Linked DNA regions of Homo sapiens: regions 1, 2, 3, 4, 5 and 6 are each reported to be linked to region 7. The links are microRNA targets in miRTarBase. Many come from high-throughput screens and were not tested one by one. Region 7 holds a microRNA gene; each other region holds the end of a gene's coding sequence. Distances are between the middles of the regions.

Region 1 (4,078 bases), not on the chromosome of region 7:
CGAGTAGCTGGGATTATAGGCATGCGCCACTACGCCCGGCTAATTTTGCATTTTTAGTAGAGATGGGGTTTTTCCATGTTGGCCAGGCTGTTCTCGAACTCCCGACCTCAGGTGATCCGCCCACCTCGGCCTCCCAAAGTGCTGGGATTACAGGCGTGAGCCACCACGCCTGGCCAATTTTTGTATTTTTTGTAGGAATGGGGTTTCACCATGTTGCCCAGGCTGGTCTCGAACTCCTGGGCTCAAGTGATCCTCCTGCCTCAGCCTCTCGAGTAGCTGGGACCACAGGCATGTACCACTACACTCTGCTTTTTTTTATTTTTAGTAGAGACAAGGTCTTGCCATGTTGCCCAGGCTGGTCTCGAACTCCTGAGCTCAAGCAGTCCACCCACCTTGGCCTCCCAAAGTGCTGGGGTTACAGGCGTGAGACACCGCGCCCGGCCAATGCCTGGGCTTTTGCACCTCAGGGCATTTCTTTTTCTTTTTTTTCTTGAGTCTCGCTCTGTTGCCCAGGCTGGAGTGCAGTGGCATGATCTCGGCTCACTGCAGGCTCTGCCTCCCGGGTTCACGCCATTCTCCTGCCTCAGCCTCCTGAGTAGCTGGGACTACAGGCGCCTGCCACTATGCCCGGCTGATTTTTTGTATTTTTAGCAGAGACGGGGTTTCACCGTGTTAGCCAGGATGGTCTTGATCTCCTGACCTCATGATCTGCCCGCCTCGGCCTCCCAAAGTGCTGGGATTACAGGCTTGAGCCACCGCGCCCGGTCACCTCAGGGCATTTCTATGACAATCATGCCCTTCCAACCTTCCAGGTGATGAGGCTCAAGCAATGGCCTGAGAGTATGTGAGACTGGGGACTAGGCCAAGCTCCGCCCCTCTTCCTCATCCCCTGATCTTCCCACCCTGTGTCTCCTGGGCAACTAACACTCTAGCCTGATGATGTGCACTGTGGAGGCCTTGGGTCTACCTCTTGGCACTCGGGCATAGACTTGGCCTTTGAGTTCAGGGCTCATGGGGGGCTTCGGTAGTGAACTTCATTCCTGGGAGGACAGATGGCTGCAGCCTCATTGACAGCAGAGGGAATTGCACAAACCCTGGCTTACTCCAGTGGCTCCTGGACACACTCAACCCCAGCACCATGGGAGGGGGACCAGAGGCCAGCTCTGCAATGGATGGGCAGCTTGTTTAGAAGCCTGTGGTGGTTGCCAGATTGCCTGGTTAGAAAGTTAAACCCCTCCCTCCCTCCCTTCCATTCCATTTTTTTTTTTTTTTTTTTTTGAGACGTAGTCTCACTCTGTCGCCCAGGCTGCAGTGCAGTGACGCAATCTCAGCTCACTGCAACCTCTGCCTCCCAGGTTCAAGCGATTTTCCTGCCTCAGCCTGCCAAGTATCTGGGAATATAGGCATGCACCACCACACCTGGCTAATTTTTTTATTTTTAGTAGAGACAGGGTTTCACTATGTTGGCCAGGCTGGTCTCAAACTCCTGACTTGGTGATCTGCTCACCTTGGCCTCCCAAAGTGCTGGGATTACAGGCGTGAGCCTCTGTACCCAGCCTTAAAAAAAACAAACTTTTTTTTTTAGAGACAGCGTCTTGCTATGTTGCCCAGGCTGGTCTTGAACTACTGGCCTCAAGTGATTCTCCCAAAGTGTTGAGATTACAAGAGTCAGACACCGCACTCGACCTCAAAACTTTGACTTCTCGTTGGACTGATCTTTTCCTAGATGCCATTATTTTATTTATTTATTTTTACTTTTAATTTTTTTAGAGATGGGATCTTTCTACGTCACCCAGGCTGGAATGCAATGGTTATTCACAGGTGTGATCATAGCTGGTCTTGACCTCGTGGGCTCAAGTGATCCTCCTGCCTCAGCCTCCTGAACAGCTGGGACTACAGGTGTGTGCCACCACATTTGGCTTACCATTATTTTAGAAGGACTTACACCTGTCTTGCTATCTGGAGTCTGCAGATTTCTTACCCAAGGTAAGCTCAAGCAGGGCCTGTTGTCTGGAACAAGACCTGTTCAAAATGTTTGCCTTAATGCTACAGTAGTAATGGTGATAGTCAATAGTAGCTTGCTATGGGTCAGGTACTGTTGTGAGAACAGAAGCTCTCAAAGGGGTATTGGACTCTGGGGATGGCTGAAACACTTCGTGGGGGCGGGGGTTGGTGTCCACGAGACCAAATTATTATTATTAATTATCTAAGATGGAGTCTTGCTCTGTCACCCAGGTTGGAGTGCAGTGGCACGATCTTGGTTCACTGCAACCTCCGCCTCCTGGGTTCAAGCAATTCTCCTGCCTCAGCTTCCCGAGTAGCTGGGATTACAGGCACCCACCACCACGCGTGGCTAATTTTTGTATTTGTAGTAAAGACGGCGTTTCACTATGTTGGCCAGGCTGGTTGTGAACTCCTGACCTCATGTGATCCACCCACCTCGGCCTCCCAAAGTGCTGGGATTATAGGCGTGAGCCACCGCGCCCTGCCTTTTTTTTTTTTATTTTGAGACAAGAGTCTCATTCCGTCACTCAGGCTGGAGTGCAGTGGTGGGATCTTGGCTCACTGCTAACCTCCGCCTCTCAGGCTCAGGTGATTCTCATGCCTCAGCCTCCGGAGTAGCTGGGATTACAGTTTGTGCAACCACGCATGGCTAATTTTTTTTGTATTTTTAGTAGAGATGAGGTTTTGCCATGTTGGTCGGGCTGGTCTCGAACTCCTGACCTCAAGTGATCCATCTGCCTTAGCCTCCCAAAGTGCTGGGATTACAGGCGTGCATGATGCCCGGCCTCCTTGTCGCTTTCAAACAGTGCTTCTAGGAGCTAACAAAGAAGTGCCTCTTTGTATGATTCCCCAAGAGAGACCCACCCAGGCAGCACCTAGCCAAGGGACAAAGACCACTCCTATCCAAAAGCCCTTTGATTCAACTTTTTTTTATTTTTTTTTTCTTTTTGAATGTCATGCAATAATTCACAGTCCCAAGCCCACGGTTTTCAAACAAGGTAGGAAAAAAGGAAAAAAGAAGCAAAGGAATCGGTGGTGATGGTGGGTTTTTCTTCTTCTTTTGTTGTTTCAAGCAGGACCAAATGTCAGAAAAAAATGCCTCTTTTCTCAATCATTAATTTTTTTGTCCTTTTTAAAATTGTTTATTGTTATTATTATTTTTTTAAATTGATTTCTGCAGGCAGTAATAGTAGGGTTTGGTATAACCGGCAAGCACTCTTGTGTGTGTCTGAGAACGTGTGTGGGTGTGAGTGTGTCTGGTGGTGGGTGTAGGGCACTGGGATTCTGGTTCCTTCTGGCTTCTTTGCCGCACTCGGCCACCAGCTGTCTTCATCAGGGAAAGGAAAGATTCAATTGAGATGATAAAACTCATCAATAGAAGCTATTTTTTTCTCCCCGTTTTTTCTTTTAAAAATGTTTTTTTTTTTTTTTTTTTTTTTTTTTTTCATGTTCCCCAAAGTTCTCCAAAAATGGCTGAGTTAATTCAAATCCCTTGGCTGTGTGGTTTGTCTGCTCCCTGCCTCCCACCCGAGAGCCCCTGTCGTGGGTGGGGGGATCGGGGCTGGTTGGGGGGCGCCGTGGCTGCCCAGGAGGGTCTCTTTTGGCCGAGGGTCTCTGCGGGACACCCTTGTGGCCCAGCCCTGGCCTCTCCAGAGTCTGGGGTCTCCCGGCTGGCCCTCTCCCGGGCCCTCTGTGCTGGGCCCCCGCGGCCTCTGCGCGGCTCCTCGGGTGGGGTGTGTGCGTGGGGTGCGTGGGGGGCCGGGCGGGCGCCACCTCGCCCGGGCTTAGCACCAATCATCGTCACTCTCGCTGTAGGGTTCGTGCAGGCCCTTCCTGGAGCCCGGCCCGCGGGGCCTGGCCAGTCCGTGCGCCGGGTAGTAGCCGTTGGGGAGTCGCCGGCCGTGCCGAGAAGGCGAGGCGCAGGCCGGGCCCGAGGCCCGGGGAGTCCTGGGCGAGCGCCCGGTGGCGCCCGAGGACGCGTGTCGTACGGGGGGTGGCGCGTCGTAGGCCCCGGCCATGGCCTCCTCGCCGCCCCCGCTGCCCGGGCCATCGGCCTCGTCGTAGTCGGAGCCCC
Region 2 (4,000 bases), not on the chromosome of region 7:
ATTCTTAAGTCCCAAGTTAATAATATTTAACTTCCAAATGGTGCCTAAATGCATTTCTGAGCCTCATGATCAAGTGGGATAAACTTTAATAAATTGGATTATCTTGAGAAACTTCAGAAAATAAATTCGACACGAAATGTATGAAGGCCGTAAACAATCCACACACTCCTGCCCCCCGAACTGACAGGCAAAGGAGAAACGGGCGACCCAGCCCAGCCGAGTAGGCAGCTGTCCCTTTTCCAAACCCAGAAAGTAAGTGGTATGAAAGGAGAGGGTAGCTCTGGACTGAAACATTCAGGGCAAGGCCTCCTGGCATCCTCTACCCCACACCACAAAGGCCTCAGAAATAAGGCCCCAAGGTCCGTAGGCAGGCCCCGGCTGCGGGTGCAGTCCAAGAGCCCCCGCCCCGGGGACTCGCTGACTCTGGCTTTCTCAGGACAGTCTGTTCCTATATCCCTACCCCCAAAACCAAGCAAAGGAGCAAGAACATCGCCCCTAAAAACCCGCGAGGGGAAGGGCCAAAGCCGCAGGGCTTCAGACTGGCCGCTCCCGGGCCCGCCAGATCCAGGAGGGATGCCCAAGGAGGGCGGTTTCCTCTCTCGGGGCGAACTCGGCCCCAGGCCCCAAGTAGCCGGTACTGGCCCCCGCCCTCTCGGGTACTACCTAACCGAGGAGGGGTGGCCAGGCCCACCTCGGAGCTCACCTTCCAGTTCCGGGAAGCCGGCCGGCCGTCAGTCGGTCCCGAATTCCGTCCACACACAGCGTCTTCCGGCTCCCGCCGGAAGCAGCTCGAGCGCGGGACAGGAAGTTTGGCTGACCCCCCACGCACACACCCACTCGCTCGCCTCAGTGTCGTGTGGCTGCCGCACTGCTCGGGACCCAGACGTCAAGGGTGCTGGCGGGGCCTCCCCAGGCCCGCGACGCAGGGCTCCGCCCCGGACAGGAGGAGCCGCAGCCGCCCCGCTCCCACTCACTCACTCACTCTCGGCCTTCGGGACTCCTATGTCCGCGAAGCCCGAAAAAACAGGTCAGCTAATTCGTTGACGTCACTGCCACCCCGCAGTAGCGGAGGGAGTAGTTTTTCCCATCAGCGGAGGCGTTGCAATGGAGGCAAACGCGAAAGAAAAGATCACTGCTTAAACATTTATCAAAGGTCTCCATGGAGAGGACCTTCGAAGTTTCACCGCCCGAGAAAGGAACTTGCAGAATCAAGTTTTGCATTATATACGGGACGGGGTATGCAGTGAGTCTGGGTTCCGTGTTGTAATTAGGATGTAAAGAGCTCTTGGATGTCCCGACTGCGGGCTTGAACACTTGACTTCCAAGCTGGATGCCACCTTGTTAAAGCTTTGTGAGTTTGACTGACTTCTTGAAATTACTTATTTTAAAATATTTGCGTGCGGAAGAATGAGAGACTCAACCGTGGGAATTAAAGGAGTTCTCTTTAAAAAGGCATTTTCAAGGTTAAAGATAAGCCTTGATGACAGGTTTGGGTACACAAATTACTAATGGTGATTTAAAATAAAGGAGAAACATTTCAGAGGAAGATAATTCCACTTTAGAAAAGCAGAGTAGGCCGGACTCCGTGGCTCACGCCTTTAATCCCAGCACTTTGGGAGGCTAAGGTGGGCGGATCACGAGGTCAGGAGATCGAGACCATCCTGGGTAACGCCGTGAAAACCCGTCTCTACTAAAAACACAAAAATTAGCCGGGCGTGGTGGCACGCGCCTGTAATCCTAGCTACTCGGGAGGCTGAGGCAGGAGAATCGCTTGAACCCGGGAGGCGGAGGTTGCAGTGAGCCGAGATCGTGCCGCTGCACGCCGGGCGACTGAGCAAGACTCCATCTCAAAAAAGAAAAGAAAAGAAAAAAGCAGAGTATAAGATGCAATCCAGAGTTGAGGATATTTACTTGGAGGTAAAGGTCCAGTGCTCAAGAAAGAGGTCAGAAATACAGATGGAGATTTGGGAGTTAGCAACATACAGAGAAAAGTGAAACCCCCTCAGGCGATGAAATGGTCCAGGAAAAGTAACAAAAAAGGGCCACTCACGAAAACTGGGGAGGCTGATTACCAACACAGTTTGAATCTACTTATTACAAATGTTGCATACAAAAGTATATTGGCAGTGTGTAGACAATCATAAGCCAAAACATTCAGAAACAATAATCTTCAGTTTTACTGTTCTGCGAGGGTTGAGTACAATTAATAAAACAAACTTTTGAGGTACATCAGTAGTTCCTGAACATTCATGTTTACAAACATTTGTTAATTTGCCCAGTCCTGTCATTTTCTGAAACTGTCTTTGTTGTCAATCTGTTTTTGTTTTTTGAGATGGAATTTCACTCTTGTCGCCCAGGCTGGAGTGCAATGGTGCAAGCTCAGCTCACGGCAACCTCCCCCTCCCAGGTTCAAATGATTCTCCAGCCTCAGCCTCCTGAGTAGCTGGGATTACAGGCGTGTGCCACCACGCCCAGCTAATTTTTGTATTTTTAGAGAGATGGGGTTTCACCGTGTTGGCCAGGCTGGTCTTGAACTCCTGACCTCAAGTGATCTGCCCGCCTCTGCCTCCCAAAGTGCTAGGATTACAGGCTTGAGACATCAGGCCCGGCTGTCAATCTTTTTAATCACCTACAAGTGATGTTTACATCTGTTTGCCCTCTCAATCTTTACAACTTGACAGTATGTGCCTGCTAACCTAAAATAAACATATGCTTTTCTCAATATATATGGAGTTTTTAGGCTATACAGTAAATTATTTGGCAAATACAAAGAGATGATCCTCTGGAGTAAATCTTGTCAACTTAACCAACCTAAGTTATTTATCTTCCCATACTAATCCCAACCCAAAACCGCTGGTCTCCTATCCCAAAAACTGTTACACAAGCTCCGAAACCCCCAATCCTGCCCCCAGTCCCTATGTACACATCATACCATTAAGTCTCTTTTCAGTCTACAATGTGAAAAAAAGGCCATCTCAATTCTATTTTTACACCAAGTTTCAGTTTAAGAATCATGTAAAACATTTCCAGTTCAACAAATCTTTACTCAGTGCCTCTCAAGCATTCTATTTTATTTTAAGCATTCTATTTTAAATTAATAAAAGTTATTAATATTAATTTTAAAAAACCTATTGTGTATGATTCATTAATGGTTGTATCAGATCATGTAAAACGTTTCCAGTTTAACAAATCTTTACAAAGTGCCTCTCAAGCGTTCTATTTTAAATTAATAAAAGTAATTACTAAAAGTTATTAATTTTTAAAAACCTATTGTGTATGATCCATTAATGATTGTATCAAATACCCTATGCAACTAAAAATAACACCTATGATCACATTTAAATCAAGAGCTATGTATAGTCTAAGGATTTTTTAACATATCTTTGAAAATATGCAAAATGGAAAAGAAATCTATGATTGCCTTGATGACATTTACAGCAATTACAAAGAGATTTCTTCTGAAATGCAAACTATCTGCTTTCCAATGTTACCTCCTGTCATCATGGACTGGAATGCAGCTGGAAAAAGAGAAAGTAGGTTATCTGAAAAGATAAATGTCACTATCATACTTGTTTCCAAAAGGTACAACATATAAAATTATGTTAAATAACTTTTTCAATGATTTTGAATATTAAGCATAGAAGAAAATGGTCATGAAAAGAAATCTCAAGTAAAAAGTTACACACAAACTAACCCAATTAACATCTTAAAAAAATGTTTTGCCCATACTGGAAAGATTTAATTGGTATCTAACTGGTATGCACATCAATGTTCATTGTTTACAGTATCTGAAGACTAGAGGCAAAAAAAAATGGGAATAAAATGTGAGTGAAGGCCGGGCATGGGGCCTCACGACTGTAATCCCAGCACTTTGGGAGGCCAAGGTGGGTGGATCACTTGAAGTCAGGAGTTTAAGACCAGCCTGACCAACATGGTGAAACCCCATCTCTACTAAAAATACAAAAATCAGCTGGGAGTGGTGGTGTGTGCCTGTAGTCCC
Region 3 (4,078 bases), not on the chromosome of region 7:
CTAAACCAGAGTTATTTTCTGGAGGAGTATTTAAAATGATGGGGATGTTATTACTTGGGTCGCAATGAACCTGAAAACCCATTTTCTACAGAATATACAGCAGCAGGGAAGCAAGGGGACCAGCAGACCCCTTTTTAAGTACGCATGTGATAAGCAATGAACACGAACTGCCCAGAGCAGTCTCCAACACTGACACGATTCGCTTCCCCACCACGACGCCCTAGCGCTACTGTGCAACGAAGACCTCCCAAGCACTGGTTCCAATGCGGAGACCATGGGCTCCCAGACTCTGGGAACTCCAACACGACTGCGAAACGAACTCCGAGCGAGGACTCCCCGAGAGCTCCCCGCAACACGGACCTCACGCGCTAGCGAACAACAGAAAAAAAAAAGCGCGCTCTCCCTGCCCCTGAAACATTCCCAGAAGCCCACGCAGACCAGACCGATGACCTGTCTCCACTGCTGGAGGCGAGTCAGGGACCCGAAGTCTCTAAACACTCGCCTCTACCCGCCGCCCCGCGAACCCCACACACTGCAGACGCGACACTCGCAAGTTTCGGGGATGGCGGCCGGCGAGGGCCATACTGCGTCTTTCCGGAGACACGGAATACGGCACCAGCCGTCCCTTTATGATGCAATATGTCTGCGCCCAGGGGACGCTTGCTGGGAGCAGCCATTTTCAACCCTACTGCCGTAGAGCAGGCGGAGTCCCTCTTTTCGCGCCTTAAGACAGGTAGGTTCTGACGATGAAAAGCAATTGAAAACGACCCATTTCACCCTTTTTCCAGTCCACGTGAACTGCTAGATCTTGGCTTTGCAACATTAGCCAGGGGCGCTACATAAACTGCTTAGTTTCTCAAAGGCTCAAGCCTGCCCTGATCTGTCTACAGGATGGGTAGAGATGGTCACAGACATTTAGGCACTTTGATCCTAAGAAGAATGGAAAGAAACCATGTGGCGCGGCAGTCTTACAGGAATTTCAAGAGGGAGGGACCTGAGCAACAATCGGAGGGGTTATTACTCCTGAGGATGCATCTGGCTGGAGAAAGCAGCCTTTGAGAACTGCCTAAGAAGTATCTTTACATCTACATCAGATGTAGCCTCAGAGGAAGGAGTCAGTCATAGAATGGATAAAACAACCGCGTGTTAAAGCTTTGGTTATAATTGGTGTGGAGAATGGAGAACACAGTTGATCAGCAGTTGACAAAGTGGGGAACCAACACGAAAACAGGGCTCTCTCACCCTGGAAAAGCCAAAGGCAGAACAAGCCTTTACATCCAGGAAGGTGGGAGCAACTTGAAATCAAAACTCTGAAGGGGAGATGATTCTGTTCAATACTGAAACTCAGCTGATCAATTAACTGATGAATTCTAGCACCAAACCTGCTCCCTATAATTTTATAACCAGCCTCAGAGAACCTTTAAAGGGATTGATCATTCACTCATTTATCCAGCGAATGTTTATAAAATGCCTAATGTGTCAAACACTGTTGTGCGTGCTGGGAATACAACAGTTGGAAATTCAGGCACAAAGACTCTCATTCATGGAGATTACATTCTACTGGCAATTTCAGTGTGTGAGCTAAATTGAGTGGTGCTAACTGTTGACTTGGCTGGTTGACTGAAACTTGGACTCAAAATTTGCCTACACTAAATGAAGTTTAAATGCCAGAAATTTCCTCATATATTATAAAGTACCCAAAGATAAATGGAGTTTGGAATGCTAGAATGAATTTATCATGTAAAATCAAGATTACCCATACCTCAAATATGTATTCCAGTAGCATCTAGAAGACAATCTCTTCACTGACACTGATCTGGTCACAGGAAATAGAGATATACTACTGTAAGATTATTTTATTATACAGTAAGTGATATAATGTCCTTGAAGTTAGAATGATAAGTTCATGATTTTCTTTCAGTCAGTTCAGGCTACTAGAAAAAATACACCATAGACTGACTGACTGCCTTAACAAACATTCATTTCTCACGTTCCAGAGGCTGAGGAGTCTCTAGAACTGGACTCTAAAACACAATCAAGGTGTTGGCAGGTCTAGTGTCCAGTGAGAGTCCATTTCCTGGTTTATGCATGGTCATCTCATTCTGTCTTCACATGGCAAAGAGCAGAGAAAGAGAAAACAAACTCTCTTCTGTGTTGTCTCATAAGACACATAATCTCATCATGAGGGTTCCACTTTCAAGATGTAATTACCTTCCAAAGGTCACACTTCCTAATGCCATCCCTTAGGGATTAGGACTTCAACATGTAAATTTGGAGAGGACATAAATATGCAATCCCTCACAATGATGTATGCTATAAAATCTCAAGGAATCAAATGACAAGGATTTACAGTTAATAAGCCAACAAAGGAGACAATATGTAATATAAACACACTCAGCTACTCTAAGGGAAAGCAGAAAAAGAAGAAAAGGAGAACAAAGAAGACATAGAATAAACAACAAATAGTAAGTTAGTAATTTAAACCTAAAAACATCAATACATTGAACGTAAATGATCTAAATACCCCAGTAAAAAGACAGAGATTGTTAACTGGATAAAAAAGGAAGGCCCAACTGTATGTTGCCCACTAAACACCCACTTTAAATATGAAAGCATAAATAGGTTAAAAGTAAAACCATGATAAATAAAGATATGAAAGATATAACAGGGAAAAACCCATGTCAAATTATTAGAGGTTAAAAATTACAATTTCTGAGAGAAAACATACTTTGGATGGGATTAATGACAGATTAAACACTGTGGAAAAAAGATTAGTGAACTGAAAGACATAGCTATGAGAACTATAAAAAATGAAATAATGAAGGGTAAAATAATAAAAAGCATGAACATCATTTTCATGTACATATGTGTATACACAAAAAGATTTGTGAACTTGAACAAGGCAAGAGATACAATCTAAACTACAAAGAGAACAAAAGCTAACCCCTACCTTGGCCCCCGGAGTAAGAGATATCATTCTGAGGAACACCAAGTGGAAGCCTCTAAAACTGCCCCCCTCCCCAGCCAAACTCTATGATCAAGATAGTAAATGAAAAACAATATTGTGGGAGGGGTAGTGAGGTTTATAAGATATAAAAAAGTAAAATATATTTCATATCTTGTAAACCCTACTATACATATTAGTGCAGGGAGCCAAAGGCCCATGGGACATGACAAACTCAGCATTCCGCTGGAGGCTATATGATCAAACAGCAAACTGTTTATCATGAATGCAGGATGTGGGCAAACTCACACTGCCCTGCCACCATTGCCACAGTTACCATATTAACAGGGCTTTTCCCCTGCACATGTTCACTAGGACTTAAGCTGTGACTTGCTGTGGAAGGATTTTCCACCTTCACTGAATCCCCCCGTTTCTCCCTTGAGTGTATTCTCTTATGTTTAACAAGGCAAGACATATAGAAGTAAGCTTTCTCACACTCATCACAGCCATAGGGTCTCTCTCCCGTGTGAGTTCTGTGATGTACAATGAGCATTGTCTTTGTAAGGAAGGCTTTCCCACAGTCACTGCATTTATAGGGTTTCTCTCCTGAGTGAATTTTCTGATGTCTAATGAGTCCTGACTTCTGTGAACAGGGTTGCCCACATTCAGGACATACAAAGGGAGTCTTTCCTGTATGATATCTCTGATGTGCTACAAGGCAAGACTTCTGGCTGAAGGCCTTGCCACAGTCAATGCATCCATAAGGTTTCTCTCCAGTGTGAGTTCGTTGATGTATGTTGAGATTGCCCTTCTGAATGAAGCCTTTTCCACATTCACTGCATGTATGAGGCTTCTCTCCTGTATGAGTTCGCTGATGTACAACGAGTAGTGATTTTCTGGAGAAAGCTCTCCCACATTCGCTGCATTGATGGGGCTTAATTCCCGTGTGAATCCTTTGATGTTCAGTAAGCTCAGATTTCCTGGGGAAGGCTTTCCCACATTCACTGCACCCGTATGGTTTCTCTCCTTTGTGAGCTCTCTCGTGTTCAGTGAGCCTGTACCTCTTGTAGAAGGCTTTCCCACACAAGCTACACCCGTGGGGTTTCTCTCCTCTGTGAGCTCTCTCGTGTTCAG
Region 4 (4,078 bases), not on the chromosome of region 7:
CCCATTTCTACAAAAAATTAAAAAATTAGCCAGGCATGATGGCGCGCACACGTTGTCCCAGCTACTCTGGAGGCTGAGGCGGGAGGAGGATCGCTTGAGCCCAGGAGTTCGAGGCTGCAGTAAGCTGTGATTTCGGCACTGCACTCCAGCCTGGACGATAGAGCGAAACCCTGGCTCAAAAAAAGAAAAATTAAAGAAAAAAAAAGAGCATCAGCATCTTCTGTGTTTATAACGATGCAAAAGCTGACACTCCACCTTCACATGAGTAAGTCATTAGTTAAGGAAGTTTTCCCTAGAGGATTCTGGGTGTGAGGCCTGCACTTGTCTTCGTTAAGGCGTCCCCGCCAGCACGCGTCCGATTGTGGTGACCACATCCCCATTGCTACAACGGGGACATCGAAGCACAGAGGGTCGGGGCTTATAGGAGGCTGCCCTGCAAAAGACCCCTGACTCCTGTCTTTTCCTGCAGTGTACCACTGGCTGGAGATGCGGACCAAAATGCGCATCATGGGTTTCAATGCCGCTGCCATCAAGCCGCTGAACGAGGGTGCAGCCGCCGAGCTGGGCGCGGAGCTGCTGGGCGAGGGCATCATCTTCATCACCGCCTGCAGCTGCCTGATGCTGGAGTATTGGCGCCACCAGTTGCAGCAGCGCCGCAAGGAAAAGGAGCGACGTGTTGCCAGGGAGGCGCTGCGGGGCGAGGTGGGCCACTTGGGGCTGGCGCTCGAGGAGTTGCAGGCGCAGGTGCAGGCGACGTCGACGCAGCTCGCCCTGGAGGAGCTGCGCGCTCAGCTGCAGGAGGTGCGAGCCCACCTCTGCCTCCGAGACCCGCCGCCTGCACCCCCAGTTGCGCCGGCGTCCGAGAAATAGGAGGTCTCGGGGCCCTGGTCTTGGAGGTGACTGCTGTCTGGACTGCGAAGTCTCTGTCTTGGCCTATTCTCCGCACTGTCCCATCCTGGACCGGCCCAGCTGACACCACCCAGTCCTTCGGGGGCGCCGGAGAGATCCTGGGCTGGAGCTGATCGAACCTCCCTACTAACCTGCCCAGTGGTACCTTCCACTGGGACTCTCCGCCTCCTGCAGGTGGAACGTTCCAAGAAGGACCCCGCCCTATCCCACCCCGCCCCTGCCAGCGCATTTGTTGAGCACTTTGGAAAGACAGCGTCTTTTATCAGACCCCACCTCCCTACCGCTAGGTAGGCCAGCAGGACGTCCACCTCTTTTGGCAAAACAAAATTCTGCACCCGGATTTAGCCACCTCTCATTCTGTCACCCGCACCCTCACTCACCTGAGTGGACCCTTCCCCTAGGACGCTCATCCTTTGCACCGAACACCACCTACCTCCTCCTCATTGGTACAGACCATTGTAAAGATGCACAAAGTTCCTACGGACTTCCCGACCCGCCCCCTTCCATCTACCTCAGTCTTAGGGGGAAAGGTGGGGGTGAATCCTGGACTGCGTTAGCTCCAATGAGTCACCACCCTGCGGCTCCTGACCTTAATCCATCTTAGTACCTGTCATTGACATCCTCCCCTCCCTGAGTGGATCGATCCAACATAACCCCCCTCTTCTTCCACCTATGGCGCACCCCACTGGCATGGCTATGCTGGGTCTTCCAGGGAAACGCCTCCCAGCCCGGCATTCTGTGGTCTGTTCCAGCAGGACGTGGCCTTTTGGGAGGAAAAACCGGTCTTGACCAGGGCTAGTCCATTCTGGCTTTCAGGCTCAGTCACTTGGTCACCAGTCCCCAGTCCTGGACCTACTGCTACTGTCCTTTTATCCGGTCCTCCCTCGCTGTCCTCTTCAGTTGCCTTTGCTAGGGACCGGCCTGTCCCTTTACTACCTAAGTCATCGTCAGTTCGCCCAACTTCCCTCCAAATCTGCCCCTCACGGTACGCAGGGATCGCCCTTCCTTCCTGCCTTTGGACTGGTCCAGGTCCTCCTCCGCCCTCCTTCACGCAAAGGCCTCCTCCAGGGGGACTACCTGTCCCTCAGCCCAGAGGTCCCCCTGTCCAAGCGGGGTATTCCACCAGGCCATATGACCTACCCACCCGACAACTGAAGGGGGCGTGGATGAGCTCTGTGACTCTGAATGCTACTTTATAAATCGACTGTCAGCGTTTTCTAATTAAAGGAGCTCTGGGGTAAAGATCTTAAGAACGTGTCTGAGAACCATAATGTGCGTCTGCAAAATGTCATTGAAATTAGGAAAGAAGGCCGGACACAGTGGCTCACGCCTGTAATTCCAGCACTTTAAGAGGCCAAAGCAGGAGGACTGCTGGAGGCCAGGAGTTAGAGACCAACCTAGGCAACACAGCAAGACCGCATCTCTACGAAAAATGAAAATATTAGCTAGGCGTCATACCAAACGCCTGTAGTTCCAGCTACTTGGGAGGCTGAGGCAGGAGGATCCCTTGAGCCCAGGAGTTCAAGGCTGCAGTGAGCTGTGATCCTGCCACTACACTCCAGACTGGGTGAAAGAGCAAGACTCCAACTCATTAAAAAAAAAAAAAAAAAAAAAGAGGAAAGAAGCTGGGAGAGTGGTAGAGTGGGGGCAGAGAATCATCTTATGAGCCCTTTCCCAAATCAGAAACTGAGGCCTGAGGTAAGCAAATGGACTTGCCCAAGGCTACACAAAGTGAGGCTGCTTCTGGCCTCCCCTAGGGTGGTGAAGGGCAGGGTGGGATGGGGAGGAAGTGGCCTCCTAAGGGGCATGGGGAGGGAGGCTGGAGGGGGCAGAGATCATCCTGGCTGCGGGCCTGAGGATGAGTGAGCAGGCGCAATATGCAGGGTGGGAAGGAAGATGAAGGGAAGGTGGATTCCTGGGAGGAGGCAGGGGTTCTCAGCAGAGGACCAAATCTTCCTGGAGGGGCACCGGGGGCCGAGCACACCTCCATCCCCATCAGAACAGGCCTTCAAATCACTCCAGAGATCTTAGCATTTATAAAAACTGGCAGATTTATTCTGCAGGGGCCCATTTTCAAGAAGCTAAAGGTGAAGGTGGGAGGGGAGAAGTTTCCTCCCCTTCTCCTTTCTCCCTCATCTTATTTCCTCCAAGGGGTAAAAAAAATGGCCTGGACCCCAAAACCTACCCAAATAAAAAATCAAAAAACTGAGGTTCCAAAAAGTTACAGCATCTTATTTCCTCATAGAAAAGGGGAAGGAGCCAGAGGGAAGGGGAGTCCCTGGGGTGGGGGGATATCTCACCCCCAGCCCGGTGAGACATCCCCTCCCCTTAAATAGCTGCCCCAAATGGGGCAAGCCCAGGGCTATAGCATTTAAAAACTCCCACATCCCATTTTATCAAAACCAAAGAGAAAAAAAAATTTCCCTTTTCCCCCAAAACCCAAATATATATATATTTTTTTTTCTTAAAAAAACCAAAACTTTGAAGGCATTAAGCGTTAAAGTGAATCTAGAACAAGGGAATGTGAAATTCCCTCCTTCCTTCCCCCTTCCTGTGGGGTTCATTGGTGCATCCCCAGCAGAGGGACCGGCCCCAAGGGGATGGCAGAGGGGAAGGACCAAAGGGAGAAAAGGGCGGGGGCCTCCCCAGCCAATCAGCAGCCAGTGTGGGTGTGAGCAGGGAAGCCACACCCCCTTGGAGTTTTCCAAGTGGGATGGGGAGTGGGAACGATGCATTCCTGTGTAGTCTTCAGCCAATTCCAAGTCAAGTAGAGGCAGGGAAAGCAGGGTGACAGGCCGGGTGTGCGGAAAGGAGAAGCGGGTCTTCTGGGTCCCTGTGGTCAGGGAGAACCCCGCTTCCTCAGCTCCTGGACGAAGGCTGGAAGGAAACAAGGAGCAGAGGTCAGGGGCAGAGTCTCTGCCTCCTCCCTTCCAAAACAGGGCTCTTGCCCAGGGACATGATGCCTCCAAAATAAGTAAATGTTTAAGAACAAAACCAAAGCAAACCACCTCACCTTCAATGATTTCCTCTTTCACTTTCTGCAATTCCTTCTTCACCTCTTCCAGAAGCTCCTAAAATTAATGGGGTAAAACTAATCAGGAGGGGGTACCGGGACTTGCAGGAATGAATCCCCCTTCTTTTATTTTTTGAGAAGGAACCTTGCTCTGTT
Region 5 (4,078 bases), not on the chromosome of region 7:
GTTAGAGGACAACTTAATCTCCATCAAAGGATTCACACGGGTGAGAAACCCTATGAATGTAAAGAATGTGGGAAGGCCTTTAGGCAGTATGCACACCTTACTCGACATCAGAGACTGAACATTGCTGAGAAGTGCTATGAGTGTAAGGAATGTGGTCAGGCCTTTCTGTGTAGTACAGGCCTTCGACTACATCACAAACTTCATACTGGAGAAAAACCCTATGAATGTAAGGAGTGTGGAAAGGCCTTTAGAGTGCGGCAGCAACTTACTCTCCATCAGAGAATTCACACTGGTGAGAAGCCTTATGATTGTAAGGAATGTGGGAAGACTTTCAGTCGTGGCTATCATCTAACTCTCCATCAGAGAATACATACTGGTGAAAAGCCCTATGAATGTAAGGAATGTCAGAAGTTCTTTCGTCGTTACTCAGAACTTATTTCACATCAGGGTATTCACATTGGAGAGAAACCTTATGAATGTAAGGAATGTGGGAAGGCATTTAGGCTGTTCTCACAGCTTACTCAACATCAGAGTATTCATTTTGGTGAGAAACCCTTTAAGTGTAAGGAATGTGAGAAGACTTTTAGACTGCTTTCACAACTTACCCAACATCAAAGTATTCATACTGGTGAAAAGCCCTATGACTGTAAGGAATGTGGAAAGGCCTTTAGACTTCATTCATCACTGATTCAACATCAGAGAATTCATTCTGGTGAGAAACCATACAAATGTAAGGAATGTAAAAAGGCATTTAGACAACATTCACATCTTACTTACCATCAGCGAATTCATAATGTAACTTAATAATTATTAGAACTCTTCCTTTGCGAATTTTATGTTGAGCATAGGAAGTACATTCTAGAGGAAAGGTTTTTGAACGTGGGAATCCCTTTTGCTTCATGCTCACAACTAAGCATAGGAAGTTTTATTTAAAGGAAAGAATATGTTAATGAACATATAGAAGCCTTTCATCACCTTTGAAACCATGTTAAACTTTAGGAAATTCATCCTAGAAAAGAACTTTATTACAGGACTGAATGTGGAAAAGCTTTTGATCTTACCTATTATTATCTCCATATTCTTCCATCTGTGTATATACACACGAAGGTTGCTAGGGAACCACTTCATTCTGAAAATGTGTAAATGAAAGGAAAGTCATTTAGTCTGCATTTCCTGTAGGAACTGTATTTCAGGGCAACCAGAAGTTAAGGAGGTAAAGTTCTTCTTTATTAGAAAATTCCAGGCTAATGAATGCAGAAAGAATAATAGAAAATTATATTAGAAAAACTATTGTGTAACACATAATGAAATAATGGATCTAGGCATGATTCTCTGTACAGGTTGACACCATTCAGTGAAGGTTGTGAACTTTATAGTGAATAGATGAGACTGACAACGTCTGAACCCACTCATCATCTCAACTTCACAAAAAGCAAGAGAGTAAAAATTACGTGCCTCCTAATGTGCTACAGTAAGATATACACATCTTGCCAAAAATATTGAACCTGAATTTAAGCCTCAAGAGCCAACTCCCAGTTTAGAGAAAATTCAAGGAATGGAAGAGTAAATTACATGACACAAAAAGGAGCAATTAAATCTAAAATAAGGGTAATTCTACAAGAGGAATCACCTGGTTTCCCAACCAATAAAATGGCATTTTAAGAAATAAGGTGGAACTCCTAGGTATTGACAGACTTGAGACATCAGTCAAATGCAATGAAACAGTGGTTTTTACTTAGATCATGAGTTGAACAAACATGTAAAAGAAGAGATACTTAACAATAATTGGGAGAATGGAATATTGACAATATTAGATAATATTAAGAAACTTTGTTATGTGTGATAATAGCATTGTGGTTATGTAAAAGTGTATTTGTTAGAGATAATTTCTGAAGTCTATACACAGGAGATGATATATCTGGAATGTCCTTTTGTTCATACAAAAGAAAAATGAGGATGAATAACAAGTTTGGCAAAATGATGGTAACCTAAGTCTTGGATACATGGTTTTTATTTGTTTTGTTTTTGCTATTCTACTTTTGTGTATTTAAAATTTTCCATGATGTTCTTTTAAAGATCAAATTATCCATGAAATTATAGCCAGTTTAAAATGAATTATTTTAAAAAAAATTTCTGGCTGGGCCCGGTGGCTCATGCCTGTAATCCCAGCACTTTGGGAGGCCGGTGGGCAGATCATGAGGTCAGGAGTTCGAGACCAGCCTGACCATCATGGTGAAACCTCATCTCCACTAAAAATACAAAAATTAGCCAGGCGTGGTCACATGCGCCTGTAATCCCAGCTACTCGGGCAGCTGAGACAGGAGAATCACTTGAACCCAGGAGGCAGAGGTTGCAGTGAGCCGAGATCACGCCATTGCACTCCAGCCTGGGCAACAAGAGCAAAACTCTATCTCAAAGAAAAAAAGAAAATTTCTACATATTAAAACTTGTGGATGTTGCCAAAGCTCTACACATTGGGATTGGAATATTAATTACACTATAATGACGATAATGTATTCAGGAAGTTAAAATGTAGGTCCACATTTTATTTAGTTGACCTCTCTATCTCTATATTATAGTACCCATGGTATGCACCTTTTTTTTTTTTTTTTTTGAGACGGAGTCTCGCTCTTTCGCCCAGGCTGGCGTGCAGTGGCACAGTCTCGGCTCACTGCAAGCTCTGCCTCCCGGGTTCAAGCCATTCTCCTCCCTCAGACTTCCGAGTGGCTGGGATTACAGGCGCCCGCCACCACACCAGGTTGATTTTTGTATTTTTAGTAGAGATGGGGTTTCACCATGTTGGCCAAGCTGGTCTCAACTCCTGACCTCAGGTGATCCACCTGCCTTGGCCTCCCAAGGTGCTGGGATTACAGGCGTGAGCCACCATGCCCGACTCTCACTTCATATGTTTAAAGAATGAGTAAAAGAAAGCAATTACTACTGCTAAATGTGGGAAATAATGGACTAGACCTGTACTAATATATGGTAGTCACTAGCAACCTGTTGAGCACTTGAAATTGAGTTATTGAGCACTGAAATGTGGCTAGTCCAAATTCAAATGGTGTTTTTTTGTAAAACACAAGATTCTGAAGACTTAGTTATTTTAAAAAAGTTAAGTATCTCAATTTTTCATATTGAGTACATATTGAAATAATATTTTAGATATATTGGTTCAAATAAAATACATTAAAATGAATAACACTTTTTTGTTTTTAAAATTGTTATAGGAAAATTTATATATGTAGCTCACGTATTTCTATTGTCAGCGCTGGCATAAACAATAAAAAGTAGACTTGGTTTTTTTGTGTGTGTTTCTTTAAAAGATACCAATATAGTCAAGACCTTTGCAGTTTTGATCACAGAAATATGAAAGATTACACAGCTACAGCTATATGAATGATAAAAGTGACAGCTATGGATTTTTAAAGTTATAAGTTGCTATACTACATATATGTAATGTGTGTGTGTATAGTGTGTAGGTATATATATTTATATTTATACACACACTATACATGTATTTTAAAATATTGAAAATCCAGAATTATTTTATGGTAAAAATTACTAAAATTGACTTCACATGCTGAATGAAGAGAGCCTGAGTAGACCAACAAACAAATGAAAAATTAAGACGGTTAGAAGATACGCTTTCTAAAAGAATACATTTAGAATCTAACTTTAAAAAAAAAAAATCCTACTCTCCTGAGCCAGAGTGGTCTCAGAGAGACTCCGAGAACCTAATTTTTTACAAGTAAAATCTTTGAAGAATTGGTAATTGCTAAATTTTTCCAACATACTATTCTACAAGACTAACCTAAAACTGATTATAAGAACTAGGTGAGGAGGGCTGGCAAAACGAAAATCTAGACATTTTCCGTATGAAGAGAAATCTGGTAATTCTAATTTCTATGGGAAATTATATCCAACAGTTTAGAATAGAAAATCATTTATGTGGAATAACTTGGACCAGATCCATCCAGCTTTAATTATATATTTAGATTCTAGGCATTCTACCTTCAGAACATCATAATGATAGTAAAAGAGATACGATTCTGGCCCAGTATCATCTCAATTCATGCTT
Region 6 (4,078 bases), 110 Mb from region 7:
TGATGTTGGTTTGTGTACACTGAAATAATGGGGGGAAGCTCTGTATGGAAGGAAAAGAAAGTTTCCTTTCTTTTCTAGAGCCGTCTGTTCAGGTTATCGGAGTCTCCCTATTCATGGGATGAGTGTCCACAACAAACTCCACAATCCTGTGTCTGCTCATTGAAGGTATGTATCAGAGTGACACTTGGAAGCATGGTATAAAGAGGAAATATGCATTTGTCAAATGAAAAATTAAAATATAAGAAAAAGTTTAAAAGGAAAAACAGAATGAGAAGGGCAGGGGCTTGATTAGAGTTTTGTCAACTGGGACAAACTTTGCAGTTTTAGTCAAATATTGCCATCTTTCTAGTGGAAGACTTTGACATGTAAGTTCTAGATTATACTTTCATTTATAAATAACTGTGTAGCTTAATGAGATGGCCCCTGTTAGTATCTTAGGCCATCTATTGAAGGTTTACTAAATTCTTCCAAGGCACGTGAGTCTGCTCCTCAGCAAAGCAGTGACAAACCTGCTTTTCCCTGGTTTCCCCAACTATGTAAAACCTTATTAAAGAATTCCTGAACAATATAAAGTTCCCTCAGCAAGACGGAACTTCCCAAGCTCTTGTCTCAGGAGAGAATGTGGATTATAGAAAGATTGTGGGTGTGAGTGGAGTGGGAAGTTATTTAGGTAGTAAGATTTTCAGGCTCGGTGCAGTGGCTCACACCTGTAATCCCAGCACTTTGGGTGGCCGAGGTGGGCAGATCACAAGGTCAGGAGATGGAGACCATCCTGGCTAACAGGGAGAAACTCCATCTCTACTAAAAATACAAAAAAAAACTAGCTGGGCACCTGTAGTCGCAGCTACTCGGGAGGTTGAGGCAGGAGAACCGCGTGAACCCAGAAGGCGGAGCTTGCAGTGAGCCAAGATCTCGCCACTGCACTGCAGCCTGGGTGACAGAGCCAGACTCCGTCTCAAAAAAAAAATAATAAAAAAATAAAAAGTTAAAGAGGCCAAGAAACATCATTTAAAACACGATATAAATTTTCATCAGACATAAAAGATAAAAAATATTTTCATTTAATAAATACTTTTGCATGTCACACATTTAACGGGAAACAAAATATCATGTTAACAGCCTAGTAATACAATTTTATTGTCTTAGATTTTTTTCGTCAGCATGTATTCTTTCTGTTTTGTTTTGCATTTGAGATGGAGTCACTCTGTTGCTCAGGCTGGAGTGCAGTGGCACGATCTTGGCTCACTGAAACCTCTGCCTCCCGGGTTCAAGTGATTCTCCCACCTCAGCCTCCCGAGTAGCTGAGACTACAGGCATGCACCACCACACCCAGCTAATTTTTGTATTTTTAGTAGAGACAGGATTTCACCATATTGGCCAGGCTGGTCTTGAACTCCTGACCTCAAGTGATCCACCTGCACTGGCCTCCCAAAGTGCTGAGAATACAGGCATGAGCCACTGCAGCCAGACAGCACATATTCTTGTTATGCTTTTAAAACTAGTTATTGATTTAAATTTTACTCATTAGTAGATTCTAGTGCAGAAGCTATAGAGCAGCAGTCCCCAGCCTTTTTGGCACCAGGCAGCAGTTTTGTGAAAGATAATTTTTCCACAGATGGGGGTTTGGGGGATGGTTTCAGGATGGTGATTCAAGCGTATTACATCTATTGTGCACTTTATTCCTATTATGACTACATTGTAATACATAATGAAATAATTACACAACTCATCATAATGGAGAATCAATGGGAGTCCTGAGCTTGTTTTTCTGTAACTAGATGGTCCCATCGTGAAGAGATAGGAGACAATGACATATCATCAGGCATTAGAGTCTCATAAGGAGCATGTGACCTAGATCCCTTGAACGAGCAGTTCACAGTAGGATTTTCACTCCTGTGAGAATCTAATGGCTTTGCTGATCTGACAGGAGGCAGAGCTCAGGTGATAATGTGAGCAACAGGGAGTGGCTGGAAATACAGATGAAGCTTCACTCGCTTGCCTGCCACTCACCTCCTGCTGTGCAGCCTGCTTCCTAACAGGTCATGGAACTGTGTGTGGCCTGGGAGTTGGGGACCCCTGCTATAGAGGATTCAGATTTAAATTCAGAAGTTAGAATGAAAAAGAATTATATTCTTTATCTAAATGATTTCACAGTTAACTAAGAGAAAGTCAGTATATGCTGAAAAGCTTATCAGTGTTAATAAGAATGAAAAATATGTACAATATGCAATTACTATTAAATATAATTTGCCCATAGTTGCACACCGAATTCATTATCATGGCAGTTAAGTATCAGAGCTTCTGGTTTCTCACTCTTCGTTCATGTATTCAGCAACCATGTGCTAAGGTACTAGGACAAGCACTGGAATTACAAGATAAAGATGATACGGTCCGCCCCTCAACAACTGTATGCTATAATCTGAAAAAACAAACAGGCAATTCCCATACAGAGTCATACATACAATGACAAGCATAAGACAGCACTTATTGGAAGACATAGAAGGGATACTAGCCCAGGTTTGTGTCAATATTGTAGGCTTTTTGGTAGAGGCAATTCATAGGTTGATATCTGAAGGGGAAGGAAAACACATGTAGGATAGAGGGAAGAAGTAAATGCAAACAGCTGGAGGTGAAGACGATCACTGTGGAGCTCCATGTAGTCTAGTTTGGCTGGATGCTAGAACAAAGGTGTAGAGTATGGTAAGTGGCGAAAGATAAGGCTGAATAACTTGACAAGAACCACACTGATGTGAGAGTTTTGATTCCATGCTAAGGAATTTTCAACTTTTCCCAGGGGCAAAAGTAAACCAATGACAAAGTCAATGACTAGAGATTTAAAATGTCACTGGTCAAGTGACTGCTTGTGACCTGTAATTGCTTAACTAATTATTATCACATGAGTGTGGGGTCTGTTAGCCTTAAATCACTACCTTAACCTTGAGAAGTTGATAATGCCTTTGTTTTGTGAGAACAGTTTCAGTGTGCAGGCTGATAGTCTATAGGGGTGGCAGAAGAAAAGTGTAGGGCCAGAAAAAAAGGGATACACAGATTTCTTGCGATTTTTTTAAAGCTATGAAACATGATGAATTAACAAAGCATAAGTATACCCTTCACTATGAATGTTTATGTTTTCACATCTTTCACTAGATGTGTGTAAGAAAAAATATTTAATGTAGCATTTATTAACCAAGCAATTGAGAGGGAATACCGTTCACTACTTAGAGTTTATTTCAGAAATCAATGATTTGAATTTAATTCATAAATTTTGGCAACATACCTTCATCTAGCTCTCAAACACCTGCAGCATCTGAAATAAATCAAATATTACTTATAATGTTTCAGTCAAACAAGAGACATTATCATGTAAACCCACTGTAAGTCAAGGAGCATCTGTACTGTAGATTGATCATCCCTAATCTAAAAATCTGAAATCCAAAATGCTCTACAATCTGAAACTTTTTGAGCACGGACATGACACCACAACTGCAACGTTCCACACCTGACCTCATGTGACAGGCTCTGGGGAAAACAGTAAAAACTTTCTTACCTGCAAAAAATTACTGTAAAACATTGTAGAGAATTACCTTCAGGCTATGTGCATAAGGTATATATGAAACACAAATGAATTTCATGTTTAGACTCAGGTACCATCCGCAAGATATTTCATTAGGTATATACAAATATTCCAAAATCTGAAAAAAATCTACTTTTGGTCCCAAGCATTTTGGACAAGGGATATTTAACCCATCCTACTGGAAAAATAAAATTCCTTTTCAGTATGACAGAAATTAAGAGATCAGCTTACCAAACTTGAATGCTGCAGGATTTTCTCAAGCCGCTCAATTTGGTCATCCTGTTTTTTAATAATTTTTCTCATCATCACATGTTCTACTTCAAGCCTAAAATGTGCATTTTAAAATAATTACTCTCACACGTAATTTTTTTTAAATCATGTAAATTCTAAACAAACTTCTGAAGGTATAATTACACAAATTCTTAGCAATCACAAAAGTAGACGATTGGGCTACTGTGTCATTTTCTACCTGTGTTTTGGTGATAATATGCAAAATTTAGGAAT
Region 7 (4,078 bases):
AGCAGGGCTGCTGCTAAGCCACAATATGCTTTTGTGTGAATTAGAAAAAGTACCCTTTGCGTGGGGCAGCTTCCCTGTGCTTGAGGAGCAGAGCCAGATTCAGCCCCTCTCAGCCTGTAGCTGGACACCCTGTGCTCAAAACCTTATGTGGCCTGTGCGCACTGGGAGAGCATTCCACACAGATGGGCCTTCCCTGAACTTTTAAGAACTTCTGAGGCTAAGAAGGGCATAGCAGGAATGGGAGAGTCACACAATGGTTCAAGGAGGGTATCGGGACATCCTGTCAATGTCTGAAGAGGCCATTATGTGTGACAGCAAATCTTTTGGTCCAGCCACTCTCCCAAAATGTGAGATCATTAGTTGCCTAATGTGGTGGTTCTCAACCAGGGGAGATTTTTTCCCTCAGGGAACATTTAGCAATGTCTGGAGACATTTTTCATGGTCATATGTGGGGTTGGGGGTATGCTACTGGCATCTGGGAAGTAGAGGGCAGGGATACTGCTAAGTATCCTACAATGCCCAGGACAACTTCCACAGCAAAGGATCATGTGGGCCCAAGGGTCAACAGTGCCAAGGTTGAGAAACCCTGGCCTAATGCAACCTTAGCTGTCTTCTTCTCTGTAGGTTGCTCTGATCCACTTGCAAAACGTTTCCTAATCCTTTTAAGATGACCTACCCACCAGGTCTTGCCTTCTTCCCTTTTATGATCTTTAACAATATTGACTAAATGGAAATATTGCATTATTTATTATTTCTGTCAGGATTTAGATGATGTGCCGCTTTTCCCCTTATGGTAAGAAAGAAATCTCCCTACCTCCACTAAATGCTTAACCTTCTAGATTGAAGATTCGTGATTGTGACTCTTCCTGAGCCTCATGCCCTCCCCTTTTGCAGAAGGCTCCTGACCTGTAATAATTTGAGATTTTGCTGAGGCAGAGGTCTGATCACATCAGCTGCCAGGCTGGTACGTGGGAGGGAGGTGCTTTGCCAGGAAATGGGCCTAGCTGACCACGCACTGAAGAGCCACACCATCATATGGTATTGTCATTCTCCCCCTGGGTACAGTGGCCTTGCTGAAATGTAACAGTTGCTTCCTCGTTACCAAAAAGAAGATTAACTGTTAGTGAAGAAATAAGAGTGACGTGCTTTCCGTGGGAAAATAAAACTTTTATTGGTAAAACTGTATATTGCGCTGGCATTTGCTGCCTCAGTACATTTCCTACTATTCACTGTTCTGGTTCGCACCAGCACCATGAGGAGCATACTGGAAGCTTTCTGAGTTCTTAGGGAGAAAGGTGCTATTTCAGGTAAAAGGATTTAAATTGCCTTATCTAATGGACACATACTTTATGTCTGCATTTTGTCAGGAGCTGTGAATTATGCATTGGCCCTTTCAGCTACATTCACGTGCATAGAAAATAACATTGTCAGACGTGTCATCCCCAGATACAATGGACAATATGCTATTATAATCGTATGGCATTGTCCTTGCTGTTTGGAGATAATACTGCTGACTTTATTCCTCTCATACATGTGAATGTGGCTGTAGGGAGCACGTGACATCTGTGGCTTTTACATGTATTAGCTTATCCCTTGCCACTTGAAGAGATTGCCATTAGTGAGCTGGCCTTGTGGGGTCATGCTAAGTGCCATGTTTTGGATCACAGTTGTTATCGGACCTTAGTTTTAGATCCAGTAGGGAATTAGTAATATTATCTTGATGGCCTGAAGATGCAGTGGGTTACTTAGTCAGCTTCCCAGAGCAGATGTGCTAAAGAAAGGGTAAGCTGAGGCGTTCCTACTCAGATCAGCTTTGGGAGTAAGAAGGCAATTGGGTACCAAGCCTGGGAATGGCTGCTTCTATGTTAGTGCATTACCCAAGTAAGCAATAATAATATCACTTGTATTGATCTTTACAGTTGCCAAGTGTTTCACATACATCCTTCCATTTAACCTTCACTTACCGATGAGGTAAGTCTTCTCATTATACCCATTGTACAAATAAGGGAACTGAGGCTGAAAGAATCATTTTTCAAAGATTTCACTGCTGAACCATCACAGAGCCTGCCCTACTCTGTTTTTCCTTTAGAGATCAGTTATTTCTTTTGGGGGCCTAAGTTGAAACAATATAAATGAATTCAGTTTTGTTTATGGTTCAGAAAAATAAATGGCTATTTGTTGTTATTTTACTTGTTCAGTATAACTACTAATTCAGAATAGCTAAGAAAACTGAGTGATTATCTTGTATATTCCTACATTCTGTCTATTTTGGTTGAACTTAAGAATCCTTGATCTTAGTTGGTTTTCCCCTATTTTAAGAAAGAAAGCTGGTTTTGAAGATGCAAACAAACGCAAGGTATTGATTCTTGAAGTGGTATCTCAGTACTACTGCATTTGCATATTTTAGATAATTCTTGATGAGAAATAGCAAATAGAAACTTTTCTCTGAACCCCTTGAAAGAATGCATCTTAGCAATCCTCTTTATTACTAAGCTGGAAAACCCAAATGGAGATGCCTTAAAGAATTCAAAGGAATCTATGGATGGGTGGATCTTGGTGTATGAGTTGTATGCTCCTCTCAGTTACACCAGAGCTTTGCTAGGTGAGGTTGAAGAAATGATTTATGTGCCTTTATTTTTGTTTGTATGATAAGTGTGGAATTCAGGATAATTTTATTTTATCTTTGTTTTTGCCCAGTTGAGGATATTTATAATGGGTTAGAAGTCGTAAGAATAAAAACCCTTGGTAAATACAGGAATTGTAAATCTATTCATTGGCAAAGATCCCAAACTCAGGTTATGATTTTGCTTGTTATGTGCAGCAGTCTCTCCTCTGAATTCAGAAAAGCACACAGTGAAGAAGAATAGCTGCTTTCTAGCATTCTGCCAAAAGGATCTACAGGAACCTCAGAGTGATGGGCATTTATATTATATCCAGAGATCTGAGGAAAGAAAAGGTATTAACACCAAAAGACAAATTCCTGGAAGGCTGAAGGAATAACACACATTACCCCTGAGGGCTCCACTCTTTTGAGGATTGTTTGTCTGTAGATATTTTTGTGTGTGATCCTGTGTTCCTGTACATCTTTGTATTTTCAAACTTCCCCTTTTTATTTCATTCTACCTGCCGTGGAAATAATCTTAATAAGTCGTTAGAATTGGCGGGGCCCCCAACCCAATTTGATAATAGCCTTTTCCTTGCTGATAATTGGCTACTAAGCATTTAGAATGCTTTCAAATCCACCTGTGTATCTTTCTCCCCCCTCTCATGGTTAGATGTTAAAGTTTTTGTTTTTGTTTTTATTTTTGTTTTTGTGGTTTTCCTGGTGTGCACCTTATCCAAAAAGAATAGTTAATGAGCAAAGCCAGAAAGAATCCTTTGCAGCCAGGGAAAACTTTTCATACATCCTTCCCACTCCTGTCATTGTATGAGCTACAAGGACCATAGGTACAAAGCTTGTGGGATCAATTACCACAAGCTCACCGTTAAGCATTTTTTTAAAAATCTGTTGCGAGAAGAGTAAAGCAATAATTAAAATTAACTGAACAGCTTTTGCTCTATTGAGGCGTTAAATCTTTGTGTAAACACAATCACGTTGTGCAAACATAGGTCTTTTTAGTTGGGTGATTTAGACAGCGAACCCACTGAAGTTTTGAGGTCTCTGGGTCAAGGGTCCGTTTTGACACGGTTTGAGAGGTCACCTGCTCATTTGTGTCTGTGTTCTGCTGCAGAGAGAACTGTGAGCTGGTATGGTTCCTTGCCCACCGCAGCACAAAGAAGAGCCGGCTGGCATTTGGCAGATAGCGGTCTGTGACGAGGGGGAAGGAAATTGCACACAAAGCAAGACGGCTGCACACAGGAGCCGGTGGGGAGTGCTTAGGAACCTCTGGGGCCCAGGCAATGATGCGGCTTGAAGGTGGAGAAAACAGCAGTTATAAAATATAAATGTGTTTATTATTACACTGGGCCTATGCTATATAATTTTACACACACTCATATTTGTGATTTACGGCCGCAGCTCCATATGGAGGAGAAGCTTGCTAATTTACCCAAATTGATAGGGATGCCGCTGAAGATC

The links. The annotated mature microRNA hsa-miR-2355-5p reads AUCCCCAGAUACAAUGGACAA and lies in region 7 at 1,439-1,459, shown strand. An mRNA with a match to its seed (bases 2 to 7 or 8) in the 3' UTR can be bound and repressed. Matches are read on the target gene's strand: a 7mer-m8 pairs with bases 2 to 8, a 7mer-A1 pairs with bases 2 to 7 and ends in A, and an 8mer does both.
Region 1: the mRNA of CACNA1A is a reported target of hsa-miR-2355-5p. Seed matches in the 3' UTR shown: 7mer-A1 at 3,454-3,460.
Region 2: miRTarBase lists PTGR2 as a target of hsa-miR-2355-5p. The part of its 3' UTR that is shown has no 7-base or 8-base seed match.
Region 3: the mRNA of ZNF649 is a reported target of hsa-miR-2355-5p. Seed matches in the 3' UTR shown: 7mer-m8 at 3,018-3,024.
Region 4: the mRNA of VASP is a reported target of hsa-miR-2355-5p. Seed matches in the 3' UTR shown: 7mer-m8 at 3,552-3,558 and 7mer-m8 at 3,481-3,487.
Region 5: miRTarBase lists ZFP30 as a target of hsa-miR-2355-5p. The part of its 3' UTR that is shown has no 7-base or 8-base seed match.
Region 6: miRTarBase lists ANKRD36 as a target of hsa-miR-2355-5p. The part of its 3' UTR that is shown has no 7-base or 8-base seed match.

The regions. Positions count from the first base shown.
Region 1 is chr19:13,203,525-13,207,602 of GRCh38, forward strand. CACNA1A (calcium voltage-gated channel subunit alpha1 A) reads right to left here. Exons shown (of 47, transcript NM_001127222.2): 47 at 2,918-4,078. The coding sequence ends at 3,789. Among named protein-coding and RNA genes, the nearest start is that of IER2, 55 kb to the left of the region's middle.
Region 2 is chr14:73,883,619-73,887,618 of GRCh38, reverse strand. PTGR2 (prostaglandin reductase 2) reads right to left here. Exons shown (of 10, transcript NM_001146154.2): 10 at 1,893-3,518. The coding sequence ends at 3,442. It overlaps ZNF410 (zinc finger protein 410), which reads right to left and starts at 760. Exons shown (of 12, transcript NM_021188.3): 1 at 704-760. RefSeq lists enhancers at 701-770, 2,402-2,511 and a silencer at 821-1,100.
Region 3 is chr19:51,887,394-51,891,471 of GRCh38, forward strand. ZNF649 (zinc finger protein 649) reads right to left here. Exons shown (of 5, transcript NM_023074.4): 5 at 1,842-4,078. The coding sequence ends at 3,225. It overlaps ZNF577 (zinc finger protein 577), which reads right to left and starts at 558. Exons shown (of 6, transcript NM_001370449.1): 1 at 1-558. It overlaps ZNF649-AS1 (ZNF649 antisense RNA 1), which reads left to right and starts at 632. Exons shown (of 3, transcript NR_110733.1): 1 at 632-733. RefSeq lists an enhancer at 1-682.
Region 4 is chr19:45,525,848-45,529,925 of GRCh38, reverse strand. VASP (vasodilator stimulated phosphoprotein) reads right to left here. Exons shown (of 13, transcript NM_003370.4): 12 at 3,923-3,980; 13 at 2,943-3,786. The coding sequence ends at 3,749. It also overlaps a transcript of OPA3 not described here. Among named protein-coding and RNA genes, the nearest start is that of VASP, 20 kb to the right of the region's middle.
Region 5 is chr19:37,631,707-37,635,784 of GRCh38, reverse strand. It overlaps ZFP30 (ZFP30 zinc finger protein), which reads left to right. Exons shown (of 6, transcript NM_001320669.3): 6 at 1-4,078. The coding sequence ends at 804. Among named protein-coding and RNA genes, the nearest start is that of ZFP30, 22 kb to the left of the region's middle.
Region 6 is chr2:97,249,373-97,253,450 of GRCh38, reverse strand. ANKRD36 (ankyrin repeat domain 36) reads right to left here. Exons shown (of 76, transcript NM_001354587.1): 74 at 3,806-3,899; 75 at 3,278-3,307. The coding sequence ends at 3,284. Among named protein-coding and RNA genes, the nearest start is that of ANKRD36, 140 kb to the right of the region's middle.
Region 7 is chr2:207,107,424-207,111,501 of GRCh38, reverse strand. MIR2355 (microRNA 2355) reads left to right here and starts at 1,429; the gene lies at 1,429-1,515. All of the region lies in intron 2 of KLF7 (KLF transcription factor 7), which reads left to right.